Linked DNA regions of Homo sapiens: region 1 is linked to region 2. Evidence: fine-mapped expression QTL. A gene starts in region 2. The other region holds a variant in brackets. All regions are shown on one strand. Distances are between the middles of the regions.

Evidence for each region.
Region 1: its variant is fine-mapped to the expression of GJA4 in iPS cells (HipSci, PIP 0.95).

Annotation. Positions count from the first base shown.
Region 1 is chr1:34,840,128-34,848,375 of GRCh38, forward strand. No RefSeq gene overlaps it. Among named protein-coding and RNA genes, the nearest start is that of SMIM12, 15 kb to the right of the region's middle. RefSeq lists enhancers at 2,268-2,955, 7,079-7,764. The variant G/A (reference allele first, on the strand shown) is at 3,528.
Region 2 is chr1:34,789,626-34,798,019 of GRCh38, forward strand. GJA4 (gap junction protein alpha 4) reads left to right here and starts at 3,374. Exons shown (of 2, transcript NM_002060.3): 1 at 3,374-3,443; 2 at 4,572-6,122. The coding sequence starts at 4,589. The coding sequence ends at 5,590. RefSeq lists an enhancer at 2,432-2,932 and a silencer at 4,637-4,791.

The sequences.
Region 1 (8,248 bases), 50 kb after region 2:
TTGGTGGTGGGGCAGTTGCCAGTGTCTTTGGAAACCTGGTGCCTGTGGACCACCTTTCTCACACAACTTCACACGGGCAGGGAGGGAAAGAGGAAGAGATCAGATAGGGGACAAGAGAACAGCTTATTCTGTGCTAGAGAACAAGAGAGTGACCCCAGGCTTGAATGAAAAGGGCTAGGAGACTTCAGAAGCAACCTGGATGGTTGATCACTACTCAGACACCCCAGTGTGGCCTTGTGCGGCCATTTCTCTTTTCTTTGCCTCAAGATCTACAACTCTGAAACGAGCAATGGGAGCAGAACATACTCTGGGCTACAGACCCTGATCCCTCCCAAGTTTGGGGAAAACTTGGCCTCACACGTGATCCCAGATAGGCTCCTAACCTTGGCACCTGCCAAGCTCCTATGAACTCTAATTGCTGTGACGTCTGGGAACCCCCCCATGGTAGGCCAGCCTACAGGGCCTTCCTAGACCTGTCCAACAGCCATGGCCTCAGGTGCCAGGCTTGCTGAGCCTCCACTGTTGGTACAGCTGATGGGAAAGGACAGGAAGCTGGGACGTGGGCAGGGAGGGTGAGTTACTCCAAATACAAGATCCAGCCCAATGCTGGTATCTTGAGGCCAGTTTGATGTGCAGAGCAGACAGATTTCAGAATTGGGGTTTCAGGAAACAGACATGTTCAGAGCAGGAGCCCAGTCCAGAGCTTAGGAGTACAGACACCCAGCCCCATTCCTCCAAGGGGAGCAGAGGGGGATGCTGACAAGGCTAGTCAGAGTGTCAGGAAGCAAAGCAGGGCTGATAAACTGTATAAACTGGGAATATGCAGCTGAGGTTGGATGGCTTTGGTCCAGGGGTGCCCAGGACTCATGCACACCAGGCTGTTGGCAACAAAGCTAATAATTCCAGAGCCCAGCAGCCCACGAAGGCTCAGGGAGCAGCCTGGTTAAGAGTGGTAGGATCGGTGCCTGCAGCAGAGGAGGGAGAGACTACGAGCCACATGCCACAACTACAATCTATGCTTGGGGGATGAGTCTGTCATTGACATCAGGGCAAGGCCATATGATTGTCTATGGTTTCTGTGACAAGGATGGGAGACAAAGGGAAGAGTCTAGAGTGGCAGGTATTGGTATAAAGAGTCCTAGGGCAGTTGTGGCTTCCCTGGGCCTAAGCCGTCACAATTCACACCTGTATAGGGGCCATAGAACACAAGGCAAACTCTGTTAGTCAGTAAGGCCTGGCCATGACCCATCCGTGGAGCACAGGGCCTGCTTGGGCAGCTTTCTCAGTCCAGCCCCAGAGGTTCCTGGCATTTGAGTGTTAGACCAAGTGTGCACTGGATTAACTCTACCAATGGAAGAAGAGAACCAACATCAAGAGTCCAAACCCCATGGACGCTTCAAATAGTAGAGGGATACTATTTTACTCAGTTCTCAGCCAACCAAATCCTTTTTCCTCATTAATTTATTTCCTTCTGCTTATCAGGTTCCATGGTTATATCACACCCTCTCACTCAGCACTATCCAATAGGACATTCTGCAATGATAGAAATGTCTGTCCCCACTGTCTAATACAATAGCCACTAGCCACGTGTGGCTAGTGAGGAGCTAATTTTTCATTTTTGTTCATTTTACTTTAAATAGTCACATGTGGCTAATGGCTACCACAATGAACAGAGGCCTGGTTCTCCTGTGCTGTAGGGCAGTAGGATCCTCAAGTCCAAACACTTAACTATATCTGTACACCAGCAATGATTAGAAAGGGATCTCTGCTCAGGGTAGGGCTGAGTGACAGAGAAAAGAGGAGAAGGGAAAGAAATGGAAGGAAAACGTGACTAGGTGAGGAGCATGTGCATTACCTTATTTTATCTTCACAGAGACCTGCAAAGTAAATATGATTAAGCTCAGATTATAAGTAAAGAGACAGAGACTCAAAGAAGTCAAATAACTTTCCCTGTCACACCATTAGTTAGGGCCAGAGTCAAGATCTGAACCCAAGTGTCTGCCTCCAAAGTCCATGGTTTTCCACCTATCAGACAGCTGAGAAAGAGAGTGGCCTCTTCCTGGCACCGGTGGGTCTCAGAGTTGAGCAGGTCAAATTCATGGGCTGCTAGACAGTTCTCTAACTCATCTCCTCCAGAGCAGGTCTGCCCTGTTACAACTGCATTGATGTGAACTTCCAGAAATCAGACACACCCAGATTCACACATAAGGCCAAAGGCACATGGCCAGAAAAAATGATCTGTGACTGTGCCATCCATTAGTGCAGATAATTAACGGTCTATTTGATCGTCTTGGCATTAAAAAAAAGGCAGAAGTAATGCTTTGTTTGGGCTGATATTAAAATATCTCTTCATACCCCTGCACTCACTAATTCACTTGCTCACTGGCAGACCAGGCAGTAGGGTCAGAAGTGAACTAGAAGGGAAGGAGATGAGGATGGAGAAGGAACTCATATTTCTTAGACATCTAATAAGTGCCAAGTATCAAGCTAAAGACTTCAACAGATTATTTCAAGCAATGATCATCCCTATGAGTCAGTTCTTACTGTCCTCACTTCACAGGAGCAGGACTAAAGCTCAGAGGGGTAGGGTGGTATATGCGCAAAGTTGCACCATTGATAGCAGTGAGGTATGACTTCGAAATCTAGGTCTGCCTGACTCCAAGCCCATGCTATGTCACACTGGCCAATGGCAGAGATCTAGAAAGCCCATCACTGCTAATAAAGTGATGGACCTCCTTTCCAGCTCACTCCGGTATCATGCCTAAAGCCAGGCTTCTGTGTAGCCATCTCATCTCCCAGAAGTTCAGGCTCCCATGAGCAGGAGAGGACCCAACCCCCAACCCCATTGTGCAACCAATGACAATGAGAGCCAGGCGTCCCCTTTCTTACCCACCACTTTCCTCCCCACACCATGGGGTGCTGCCAGTTCAGCACAATAGTGTATTCTGTGTCCAAAAGCCTCTGCTGGCAGCCCCTAGTCTTTTGCAGCCCCTCCAGACAATGGCAGAGCCCAAAAGGCCTGATAGCCGGTGACAAATGTATGTGAATGACCAGCTCACAGGAAGTGGCCTTCAATAGTCCGATAGCTTCCTGTATCCTGACATTGTGAAGGCCCACTTCCTGTGCTGTCTCTGAAAATACAGCAAGTCAAAGCTGGGGGTGGGTCCAGAGGCAGGGTTTCCCTGTCTACCCCCTAGCCCAGGCTCCCCTATAAAACGCAACTCTGTTTGCCTAAGGATGCCACCAGCCAGTCTCACCTGACTTCTGATTCAAGGGTGAATTCCTGGCTGGTCTCTGACCTGTCCCTTCACCTCTTAACCAAACCCCACCCAAGCCCAGTCAGAACAAAATGACCTATTTTTAAAGATTTTACAGGCTTCCTCAGTCTCACCCCCGACCCCCCCTTTCAAGTTCCCAGGCCTTCTCCTGCTGGGAAAGGCTTTCTCATGTCTACTCACATACCTTTGCTGCATACTAAACCCATTTCCGCGTGTCCGCCGGTCACTCTGCCCTGAATGATAACCTTC[G/A]ATAGGTTTACAAATGCTCATTAAGTCACCCTTCAAGTTTATCTTCCCGGAGCCGATAATCACAATGCCTTCAGCTTCCTCCGTGTTACAAAAAGCAAAGCGAAGCAAGACAGCTGGGGAAGCAGGGAGGCCTCCTTTATCTCTGGCTCCAGCTGGACTCAGGAAAGGCTCTCCCAGGTTGTGCCTCCCCACAGCACCTTGCCTCCCAGCACAAGCTGGCCCAAAAGATCAAGCGCACCTGCCAATTACCAGGAAAGCAGGGGCAAGAGGGAGAACTGATGTCTTCTATGGAATGAGGCACTATGCTAAGAGCTTTCCCCTCAATTACTTGGTGAAGGAGGTAGTAAATCCCTATATTAAAGACTAGGACGCAGAGAAGCTAAGTGACTTTGCCCACGGTCTCACAGCTAGTGAGGGGGGAGCCATGTGACCCACAGCCTAGTAAGAGGAAGCCCATAGTACCCACAGCCTTGCTTGGCACTGGGAAATGGTTTGGATATGGGGGAATGGGGAGATTACCGTTTGCTCCCTCCTCTCACACCTCCTCTCAGGACCCTCATATCTCACACATGGAAAGTCATCTCCCAACTTCCTAGCATGGGAGAAACAGTGCTGGAGAGGAGCAGGTGGCTGCACCCAGTCCCGCCAGCAGCCTGTCTCTGAGCATTGTTCTCCACGGTCAACAATGACGGCACTGAATTAGCCTCAGGCCATTGTGGTTGCTGGGGTAGGAGACGTAGTGGGGGTGGGGGATACAGGTCAAGAGGTGACAACCCATTCATTCCCTCCTAGTCATTGGAGATCTGAGAGCTGCAGCCCAGTCAGTCAGGAGCCCTGAGCCCAGTGTGTCCAGGAATCAGGGAAAACAAAGAGGTCTCTGGAGATGAAAGGAAAGAGGAGGGGAGGAAGCCCCCACTGACTTTCCCACCCTCCACCCTCCACTGTCCAAGGGGAAGAAAGGCCAAGGGCACAGTGAAGCTGGGAGGAACAGCCAGCTTCACTGGAAGTAGACCAGAGCTCCAAAGCCTGCAGACCTAGGCTTCGCTCCCAGCACAACCACTCGCTCAACGTGCGATTCAGTTACTTAGCCCCTGAGTCTCAGTTTCCCTATCTATAAAATGGAGAAAACAACCCCTGCTTTGCAGGGCTCTTGAGAGGATTAAATGAGATATCAGAGGCATCCGGCACAACACTCAGCCTAAAGGAGCTCAGTGAGCACAGTTTTCCTTCTCTTCTTTTCTGGGATTTGTCTGCCTTGGGTTCCCAAGACTAATGAAGTCCACAGGAAAAGCAGGGTGGCTGCCTTCTAGCCCTTTTCCAAGAAGCCAGGGAACCTCTGCAATCCTAGGACTCTGTGGACCTGGCTGGGCAGAAGGCAGCAGGCAGCTGGACCTAAAGCATCCATCCTTCCTGCCCCTCCAATGCTGGCTTCTGGGCCTGGGGGGACAAGAGGCCGTGAAAGACCCAGAACTACTGACCCCAGAGGGAGATGTAGGATGCTGGGGGAGGGCAGTGCACCATCAGAGGACCCTGAGATGATCTCTAGCCCACCTAATGGGGCTGCGTGAAAGACTGATGGGGAGGTGGGCTCCAGGGCCAGGCAAAGCACTTACTTGTCATCTGTGGCCAATTCTGACTTCCAGAAAGTTTCTGAGCCACTTCCCTACCCGCCCTCAGCTTTTATCAGAAAACACATGGCACTCAGAGAGGAAAGTCTTTACTAGAATATCAGCCTAAACCAACTCAGTCAGACAAGTAAATCTCCTGGAAAAAATAATAGAAGTGATGTTTGAACTCTCGGTGCTATTTCTAAACCACTCCCTGCCAGGTGGGGTACATGGAGAGCTGCAGAGCTCAGCTAAAACAAAGGTGGCGATGTTACCCCCTTCAAAGTCACTGCTCATGGGGAGAGCCTGGGTCACAGCCTAGAGGCGGAAGGGAGTCGAGGCTCTGATAAGGCAGGGGAAGGACAGGACAGTGCCTGGGGCCTGCTGACTGTTCCTTCACCCCAGAGACCACAGGGATAATCAGCTCACAGAGCCTTCCGGCCTCAGGCATTTAGTTCTCACTCTAGGGCCTCTTGTGGGAGAGAGGGACGAGGACCCAACACCAGCCTCTCCCCAGGGTAGGCTGAGCGCCTCCCCATTAAAGGCTTTGGCTGTAGCCGCTCTCCCGTGCAGAGGTTTCCCCGGCGGCAGCGGCCCGCTTCATGCTGCTGCCGTCTGTCTTTCTGTTACTGCTGAAATGTGTCCCCACAAGATTCATATGTTGAAGTCCTAAACTTCATATTTCTTCATAATATGACTGTATTTGGAGATAGGCTTTTAAAGATAAGATTAAGTTAAAATGTGGCCATTAGGGTGGGCCCTAATCTAACCTGATGGTGTCTTTTTAAGAGGAAATTTGGATACACCAGGAGTGCACAGGCACAGAGAGATACCCATGTAAACAGGCAGCAAAAGGGTGCCCACCTGCAAGCCAGAGAGAGAGGCCTCAGGAAAACCCAATCAAGTTGGCACCTTGATCTTGGACTTCCAGCCTCCAGAACTGTGAGAAAATAAGTCTCTGAGGTCGGTGAGCCACTCTGTGGTGTTTCATTATGGCAGCCCTGACAAACTAAGACACTTCCCCTGTCTGGGGGTCATGAACAAGAGTCTGGGGGACCCCCTCCAACACACTCCCAAGAGCCCCAGTAGCCCGGGCAGGGTCCCCTCAGCTCAGCACCACCCTTAGTCAACCCTCAGCTTCTCCAGCCTCCTCCAGAAATCTCTAACTGCCTGAAGGCCAATCAGTGAGCCAACCAAGGCTGTGTGCAGGTTGGGATTGCTACAAGACACCAAGGCAGTCCAGGAAAGGCCTGGGGACTCAGAGCAGGGACAGTGAGACAGGGGCAGAGAAGCAACAAACAGCACAGCCAACAGGCCTCTGGGCTGAGGATCAGGGTACCCTCATGGTTCCCCAGCTGTCGGCCACAGGGCTACTGTAGGCCTCAGTTTCCCCACTACACTCAGGCACCCTCTCTTAGAGCCCAGAGAGAAATCAGGGTCCTAAAGTGTGGCTAAATGCATAGAATGGAAAAAATACTTCTAATCACAACAACCAACTTTTCCTAGTGCTAACTATATGTGAGCCACTGTTCCAGATGCTTTGGTGTGTTTTCCTTGAATCCTTGCAATAACCCCGTAAGTCATACATTAGCCCCATTTGACACAGAAGACACTGAGAAGAAGCTTGCCAAAGGACTGCAGCTGTAAGAGGCAGTGCTGGGCTTTGAATGGGAGCAGTCTAGCTCCAGAGCTGAGCTTCTTGAGGAGAGCAGATTGCAGGGTGGGAGGTGGGGTGGGGTGGGGTCTGAGCCCATCAAGGCCCCAGCATATATCAGTGAGGTGAGAGCCAGCCAAGGACAGGGCTTTAGGGACAATAGCAGCTGAACAATCCACCTTGTCATCAATCAACCAAATTATAAACACACAGGACTCGCATCTGTGGGAAAGACTGTGACCTCCTACCCTCCCGCACGTGGGGAAAACAGCTTGGAGAGGATCAAAGGGGCAGAGGTACCCCAGGAGTTATTCTTTAGTCTGTGTGCTGGGCAAACAAAACTGGGAGGGGGCAGGAAAAGCAGGCTGCAACCTTCATCAGAGGTAAGTCACATGAGCCACCAGCCAGAGGGGCTGTGGCTATGCCCTACGGCCGGCAGGCACCCAAGAGGGTTTCCCCTCATCGTCAACTCAAGCAAACTGCAGGCCAGAAGCTGACCTTGGTTTGGCATGATGACAAGGTGCAAGCTGGGAAAGGGAGGGGGCATGGGGCCGCCACAGGGCCAGCTCTGCTAAGAATCCCATTATCTTGGGGGAGCCATTTCCCACTCGAGGGGCAGAAGAAGAATCAGTGATTTTCTCTCTTTTATTTGAACTCCTTGGGAATGACAGACAAGTGGAAAGAGGGTTTCATATAAATACAAGAAGGCTTATAGTCTGCTTCTTGAGGAGGTGGGGAAACCAGAGCCTTCCCCATCTCTATTTTCAATGCTTACAGGCTTCACCTACCAGCCCACCCCACCCTCTCAGGCATGTGGCTAGAGGGAAGGCATGAAGGGGAAAATGGAGATAAAACAGAGACACTCCAGAAGCAGTGGCTCCCACAGGATCTCCAGGAAGCCATTCTCACCCCTTCCCAGGATTCCTCAAACCAAAGGGTTGGTCCAAGGGTCTGCCGAGAGGCTGCTGGAGAGCTCCACCTGGTAAGTGCATTAAGAGGATCCCTGGGCCTTGCTGGATTCCTTGGAGTTTTCCCATCCATCCTGCTGAGCTGCTCCAGAGCTTTGATCACTACTACACGAAGGGTTTCCTGAATGCTTTCCTGAGGACATTGTTCCCCACTATAGAGTCATCAGGGTCAAATTCATCATGGGCTATCCTGATCCAGGTCCTACCCAGGAGGAAAATGCAGCCTTCTGCCCAAGCCCCAGTCCCCTAGAAAAATAAGTCAGTAGTTTCTTTTGGTTCATCCCATTACCAGCCTTGGGGAAGGTAACGCTGTAGCAAAACACAGCTGCCATTAGCTCTAAGCTGCCAGGCACCTCAAAGCACACACCTGGCGGCCCTGCTCCCTATCCTTCTAAGAGACCTGTCCCCACACCCAGCCCCAGTACCTGCTCCATCCCAGAATCACACTCCAGGACCTCTTAATTCATTCAACATTTATTGACAATGATCATT
Region 2 (8,394 bases):
GCCACAGTGACTCACGCTTATAATCCCAGCACTTTGGGAGGCCGAGGCGGGTGGATCATGAGGTCAAGAGATCGAGACCATCCTGGCCAACACAGTGAAACCCCGTCTCTACTAAAAATACAAAAATTAGCTGGGCGTGGTGGCATGCGCCTGTAGTCCCAGCTACTTGAGAGGCTGAGGCAGGAGAATCGCTTGAACCTGGGAGGTGGAGGTTGCAGTGAGTTAAGATCGCACCACTGCACTCCAGCCTGGGCAACAGAGCAAGACTCCATCTCAAAAAAAAAAAAAAACAAAAGAAACTGAAACTTGCCACCCCTGCACTCTCACTCCTCCCTACTTCATTTCCCCCAGAGCATTCATCACCGTCTAACATGTTCTACATTTTGCTAGAATGTAAAACCTCCGAGGACAGGGATTTTTTTGTTGTTGTTCCCTGGTTATCTCCACTGTCTAGGATGGCATCACAGCACATAGGAGGTGCTTAGTAACTATTGCTTTTAATAGCAAAAACCACAATTACTTTTGCACCAAACTAAATACTTGTTAAATTAACAAATTTATATACAGATCTGGTGCCCTGCTAGGTGGTGGAGATATAAAGACCCAGCTGCCTGCCCTCAAAGGGCTCACAGTCTAATGGAGGAGGGGAATAAAGATAAGTAGACCATGCACCAAGGAATGGGGAAAGGGGAGTGGTTTACTAGAGACAGAGTTTCAGTTTTGCAAGATGGCAAAGTTCTGGAGATCTGTTGCAAAACAACGTGAATATACTCAACACTACTGAACTGTACACTTAAAATCCTTAAGATGATACATTTTATGGTAGCTGCTTTTTAACATAATTAAAAATTTTTAAATAACAAAAACAAAGCACCATGGGTAGTAGCTGAGCTGCTGAAAGCACAAAGGTACACCTAGCACAGAGGGAGCCAGCAAGGGGACTTCTGGGAGAAGGCAACAACTGAGAAAAGTCCTGATTCACAGCGTTCAGCACGTGAGGGTGCTCCATGCAGAGGGAACAGCAGGGACAAAGGCAAGAGCGCACAGAGAACCCCATCAGTGAGACCTGGTTGGGTCACAGCGAGAAGGGTGAGGGGTAAGGCTGGAGAAGTGGCCAGGGACTGGAGGTTGGGGAGCCTAGGGCTTACCCAGAAGGTGATAGGGAGCCATAGATGACTTTTCAGCAGGGCGATGTTGGTCAGATTTCTAGGGAAGTGTGGAGGCTGAGTTGGAAGGGTGGGGCTAGAGGTCAAGAGACCAGCTGGGAGGCCACTGAGGTGGCAGCAGCCTGAACAGGACCAGGGCAAAGGGAATGCAGGGAAGCATGTGGTTCCAGGGACATTTCCAGGTGGAATGACCAGGTTGTGGTAACTGTTGTCTTAGTTGATCCCAGCTTCTTCATCCTCTGGGGAGGAGGCCGAGTTATTCAAACCTCCAAAGCCCTTGAGGAAGGAGTCAGAGCAGGGTGAGGGCAGCCTTGACGTCACTCCCCAGCCCTCCACTGGCTCTTCCCTCTTTCCCAGTATACTGAATCAGAAAGGCTTTGGGAGAGCTGGGCCCAGCCCCAAGAGAGGAAAACTCGGTAGTGAGCAGAGGCTGCAGTGGGGGCGTGGTGAGAACCAGCCTCCAGGGGCCTCGGTTCTCATGCCCTCAAGGGTCAGAATTAAGTGGGGCAGTTGTTAGCTTCAGAAATCCAGGAGACTCAGTTCAGCCTGGCCCTGAGGGAGAGGCCTAGAGGGGAAGCCAGCCCAGCCGGATCCCTCAGGGCAGCTAGCCCTGAAGTTCTCAGGTCTGCGTGTCCCCAAAGATGTCCTCCTGCTGGTCCTGAAGACAGAACCCTCAGGGACCCGGCCCTGGGGCCCAGGGAATCCAAGGACTAAATCTTGCTGTGGAGGAACAGGGACTTCTGTGCCACCAGCCCCAGGCCTCAACAGCCCCCTGCCACCTTCCCTTTCCTCAGCTGCGCCAGCCCCTACCACCCTCTAAGAACAACCCACAGACCCTTTTTGTTACAGTATCACAATGTTTTTAGCCACCACTCACTTGAAAAACTTTATGTACCACTATTACACTATGTGCTTTGATCACACTGTATGCCATCAACCCCACAAAGTAGATACTATCACTATTCTCATTCTGTAGAGGAAGAAATTGAGGCACAGGGATTTGAGTAACTTGCCTAAGGGTACAGGAGTCAACAGCAAAGTCTCAGCTCCTGGGCTCAGCCACCAACAACGTCTCAGCACTCCGAGGGCAGTGGCCACAGTCTCAGAACCCCACAGCTCCAGGCCCTCGAGCCACACTCATGCCGCCCCTCTACCTAGAATGCTCTTCCCTTCCACTTGGCTAATGGAGGGGGAAAAGCATTTCCTCTCCTCCAGGAAATGTTCCTAACCAAGTCCCCTGGGAATCACCCAGTACCTCTCAGGAGAACTTTCCACATTTATTATCTTACCGTTATCCAAGGGCTGATATGCTCAATCCCTGCACCAGCCAGTGAGGGAGGAGGCCAGAGACCAAGTTTGGCTGGTTCCTCAGGGTATCCCCAGGTCCCCAAGCAGCGTCTGCAGCACAGCAGATGCTCACTGATGCTCATCCACCTGTGATGCCTGAATGCATGAAGGCAGGCTCCGCATAGCCCTTTCATTCCTATGGATGTCCCCCACACCACCCAGCCACCATTTAGAGGCATAAGAACGGGGTCCAAGCTAAAGGTCAGGTGGTTCCCCCACCCCCAGTCTCAAGGAGTCCATGGGAATTGCTTAATGGCCTCTGATTGTGTAGCCTGCCCAGACATGGGGATGTTTGAGAATTCTGGAAGAACGTGGGCTGGGCGTGGATAGAGACGCCTGCTCCACCATGTATGCTGGAGGTGTGGATTACAACCCCTGTCCCCCATTGGAGCTTCCCGCGCCGTAATTAGCCTTGATCGCCTCATCCTGGCACACTAGGGCCAGCCACCTAGCAAATGAGTGGTCCCCACACTCCATCCCCATCCGCCCACCCCTCACAGCCCCGCAGGCCAGTTGCCCAGATCCACAGCCCTTACTGCAACCCCTTCAAATCCAGCCACCCTGAGAGATCCTGGCCTGGGAGAACTCTCCTTCCCTGGCCAAAGAAACGACAGGAGAGTTTACTGTCTGGAATACCTGGTGGAGAGAGAACAGAGGAGAGGAAGGGTAGGTCAGCCCCTCTTGCCCCTCCCCACCGCAAATCACACAGGCCCACCTCCCCGGAGTGGGTTTAGGGAGTCTGCACCTCCCAGTCCCCGCCCCCGCCCTCTCTCCAGCGCCCGCCGCCCTCCCCGTCGCGTTTCCTGCCCCCACCCCGCCCCTCTGCGCTATTTAAGGCGCCCCCGCCGCTCGTGCGGTCCAGCAGGGCTCCCGCGGGCGTCACTCCGGCCATCGTCCCCACCTCCACCTGGGCCGCCCGGCAGGCAGGCGGTGAGTCGGGGGCTAGGAAGGGACCAGGGGCGCCACCTGCTCGCGGGAGGCCGGGAGGAGTCTTGGGTCCTCCGATGCCGGGACGGGGGTTGCTGCGGAACGCCCGCCGCGACAGAGCCGCGCTCACCCAGGTGGCCTTGGCCAGGCTCCCACCCTCTTTCCATGGAATCCTTGTAACAACCCGAGGCGGGAGGAATACTATTGTTTCCACTCTATCGTGGAGGAGACTGAGGGGCCCAGAGGTTGTTCCTTATCCAAGGGGCCGCAGTTACTAAAAGGCAAGATTTGAACCCAGGGCCGCTTCCAGAGCCTGGCTCTAAACAGCTTTGCACTTGGGAAGAGGCACCTCCCCCTTGGGAACTTTGTGGCCTGTGCCTCACCCTGCAATGACAATTCCTTTCAAGAGTCTAGAATTTGCCAGCATCAGCTTTGGAGGTGGAAGGGGGTGGGAGTGGAGGTGGAGGAAGAAGACAGGACCAAATGTCCCTCCTCAAGTGGCAGGTGGTCATTATTGCTGACCGGTGGAGCTAAAGGATGATGCTGCCTTCAGCTCCTAAAACCCCTTCCACTACCCAGCCCCTGCAGGCTCAAAGATTAGAGTGAAGCCAGCTGGGTAAGATATGAGGCGGGGAGCAGGGACCTGAGGCTTTGAGCCCCCTAAGAAGCAGAAGATAACACCTCTACCATCATCACTAGCTCCCACTGTCTGGGGGTAGCCAGCCTTGGGCAAAAGGGAGGAAGGGCTTAGCCCAGCTGCACAACTTTGGATAAGTTCCTCAAATTCTGTTCCCATAGGCAAAGGAGCCTCAACTCCACCCAGATTTCCTTGGCCTGTGTCCATCCTGGGGCAGTGGCTCGGGGACAAGAGGGACATAGATGTCTGATTAGGCAGGGACCTTAGCCAAAGCAGAATGAGACCATACAAAGAGGTGGGCAGCCATCATCCAAAAATCTGGGTTGGGTCCTGCCTGCACTGCTGAGTGGGAGCCTCCAGGCCAGTCCTTCCCCTTCCTGAGCCTGGGTTTCTTTGTAGGTAGAACGGGCGTGGCAGACCTCCCTGCAGGCTTGTTGCTGGGCGAACGAGAAGGATGCCATGCTGACACACTGACGTGCTCTGTCTCCTTGCAGACGGAGGCCCGGGAGCCATGGGTGACTGGGGCTTCCTGGAGAAGTTGCTGGACCAGGTCCAGGAGCACTCGACCGTGGTGGGTAAGATCTGGCTGACGGTGCTCTTCATCTTCCGCATCCTCATCCTGGGCCTGGCCGGCGAGTCAGTGTGGGGTGACGAGCAATCAGATTTCGAGTGTAACACGGCCCAGCCAGGCTGCACCAACGTCTGCTATGACCAGGCCTTCCCCATCTCCCACATCCGCTACTGGGTGCTGCAGTTCCTCTTCGTCAGCACACCCACCCTGGTCTACCTGGGCCATGTCATTTACCTGTCTCGGCGAGAAGAGCGGCTGCGGCAGAAGGAGGGGGAGCTGCGGGCACTGCCGGCCAAGGACCCACAGGTGGAGCGGGCGCTGGCGGCCGTAGAGCGTCAGATGGCCAAGATCTCGGTGGCAGAAGATGGTCGCCTGCGCATCCGCGGAGCACTGATGGGCACCTATGTCGCCAGTGTGCTCTGCAAGAGTGTGCTAGAGGCAGGCTTCCTCTATGGCCAGTGGCGCCTGTACGGCTGGACCATGGAGCCCGTGTTTGTGTGCCAGCGAGCACCCTGCCCCTACCTCGTGGACTGCTTTGTCTCTCGCCCCACGGAGAAGACCATCTTCATCATCTTCATGTTGGTGGTTGGACTCATCTCCCTGGTGCTTAACCTGCTGGAGTTGGTGCACCTGCTGTGTCGCTGCCTCAGCCGGGGGATGAGGGCACGGCAAGGCCAAGACGCACCCCCGACCCAGGGCACCTCCTCAGACCCTTACACGGACCAGGTCTTCTTCTACCTCCCCGTGGGCCAGGGGCCCTCATCCCCACCATGCCCCACCTACAATGGGCTCTCATCCAGTGAGCAGAACTGGGCCAACCTGACCACAGAGGAGAGGCTGGCGTCTTCCAGGCCCCCTCTCTTCCTGGACCCACCCCCTCAGAATGGCCAAAAACCCCCAAGTCGTCCCAGCAGCTCTGCTTCTAAGAAGCAGTATGTATAGAGGCCTGTGGCTTATGTCACCCAACAGAGGGGTCCTGAGAAGTCTGGCTGCCTGGGATGCCCCCTGCCCCCTCCTGGAAGGCTCTGCAGAGATGACTGGGCTGGGGAAGCAGGTGCTTGCTGGCCATGGAGCCTCATTGCAAGTTGTTCTTGAACACCTGAGGCCTTCCTGGTGCCCACCAGGCACTACGGCTTCCTCTCCAGAATGTGGCTTTGCCTGAGCACAGACAGAGTCAGCATGGAATGCTCTTGGCCAAGGGTACTGGGGGCCCTCTGGCCTTTTGCAGCTGATCCAGAGGAACCCAGAGCCAACTTACCCCAACCTCACCCTATGGAACAGTCACCTGTGCGCAGGTTGTCCTCAAACCCTCTCCTCACAGGAAAAGGCGGATTGAGGCTGCTGGGTCAGCCTTGATCGCACAGACAGAGCTTGTGCCGGATTTGGCCCTGTCAAGGGGACTGGTGCCTTGTTTTCATCACTCCTTCCTAGTTCTACTGTTCAAGCTTCTGAAATAAACAGGACTTGATCACAAGTAGGTGTGTATTGATGCTATCATGATGTGCTGGGGGTTGGGGGATAGAGTTATTTTGCCCAGGCTTCCTTTACTTCTTGGTCCTGTATAATCTCTTTGGTCTCTATAACCCCCGATTCCAGCCAACACCTTGAACCCTCAAACTCATACCTTCTGCCTCCAACAGCCCTGATTTCTAAATGCTCTGCCTTTTGAAATGCCTCAGACACTATCTTCTTTTCATCCCCACTGCTCCAGCGCATTAATCAGTGGTCAAAGCATAAACGTCCTTGCCCTCCCTCCCCCATGCCCATCGTCGCCCTGGCCACACTGCCCCCTGCAAAGTGCTTCCTTACTGGATGGTTTGCTCTCCAAGCGTGCCTGCCAGCCAAGCCCTTCGCAGTCCAGTTCAGATGGGCCCTGCACTCATCCCACCTCATCCTCATCCTTGGTATTTGGGAAGGGAGGTTTAGGTCACTAGTCCTTCCTACCTTGGCCCTTTCTAGTCTGCCCACCAGGAGAAGCAACTGAAGGATTTGCTTCATATCTGCTCTCCATGCACCCAGACCTCAGTGAGGACAATGGCAATGTACAGAAGTGGAAGAGACTGAATCTTGCCAATGAGCCACAAAGGCTGCAGAAACAAAATGAACAATTGAACTGGGTCTTGACTAGGAGTTCACTGGGGAGGGAAAGAGAACACTGAGCATTCAAGCGGAGAAAACTGTTTGTGCAAAGTCAGAGGAGGGATTGACAGGCTGAGGGGGCATTTAGGTCCTGATGAGCCACCTAGATACAGGAGGCGTGGCTGAGGATGGGCCCACTGCTGGCAGAATTGACCTATGTGGAGGCGACCCAGGTAGGGGAGAGCACTAGGTAGTGACCCTCAGAGGCAAGCTGGTTGTCCTCCCTTCCCAGGGACATCTGGGGCTAGGGTTGAAGAAGGAAAGGGGGTCTCTCTGATGTGGCCACATGCTTCTCCTTGAGAGCCACAATGCCTTCACAGCAGGTTGGCAAGTTGGCCCCTCTCCCATCAGGATGGGTGTTGAAAACACCAGCTCTGTACCCCTCATCCAGAGCTCATTCGCTCACTCGCTGCTTACCCAGCGAGTCTGAATGCTCAGCCTAATAAATTACGACCCTCTTCCTTTTCCAGCTGTGGTTCCCATTGTTCCCTCTGAATCGCTGAAATCGATCAGGCCAGCTTCCTCATGGCTCCCAGATTCACCCAGTATGTTCCCACCCTGCCCCTGTGTCAGCATGCAGCGTCCCTGCCCCCCACACTTCGAAACTCCACAAATCCTTTAAATACTACTGGACCCTGGAAAAGGGCTTGGTGCGGAAGAGTGAGATGAGCTTATCACCAGAGGGCCCTGAATTTAAATGCTGTGGTCTGGAGTCAATCATTTCGCTTCTCTGAGTCTCAGTTTTCTAACCTCTAAAATGCAAATAACATCACCTGCCTCACAACTGACTGGAAACCAAATAAGTGAAAGTATGTGACTGTGCCTGGCTCAGTAGTCATGCAGTAAAATTAAGCTCACACCTTTCAGCCAGACTAACATAGGCTCTTCCTCCAGGAAGCGCTCTCTGACTTCTCCAGCTAGTCTCCGGCAATGACCTCTACCTCTCAGGGATCTGAACCACTGCTTGATTGAGTGAGGCTGGGCTCAATCCTGAAAGCCTCAAAAAGGAGGCTGTTCACATACTGGAAGTCCATGACCACTGGAAGTTGAGGTCCCTGTCTAAGAGATTCTCCTCCAGCCAGGGTGAGAGGCCAGAGGCTGCAGGTTAGAAGCCAGCGTTAGAGCCAGCATTACCTGAGGGGCTTCAGAGCCCTGGTTTGGTGTTTCTGTTATCCCCAACCTTTCCTACTTTGGAAAGGTAGGAGAAGAAAGGTTTCAGTGAGCAGAAATGGCATCCTTCCCCTCCCTCAAAGCTCACCCACTCTGAGCTTGGTGTCAGAGCCGGGGTCAGGCTGGGGCTCAGGAACTTGGACCTTTGGCAAGACAAGTTGGGTCCTAGACTGGCGGCCACACAAACACAAGCACATATGGGCTGGGGGTTTAAGAGTGAGGACAGTGTCATGGGGCTGGGATCACACCATTTGGGTTGGGGGTATGGTGAAGACTTTATGGAGAGAAGAGTGGCTGTAAGCCCCATCCCACCTGTATTCCCTTGCCAAGGCTACTGTACCAAAGTACCACAGACTGCACGGCTTAAGCAACAGAAACTGATTCTCAGTTCTGAAGGCCAGAAGTCTGAGATCGAGATATCCGAAGGGCTGGTTCCT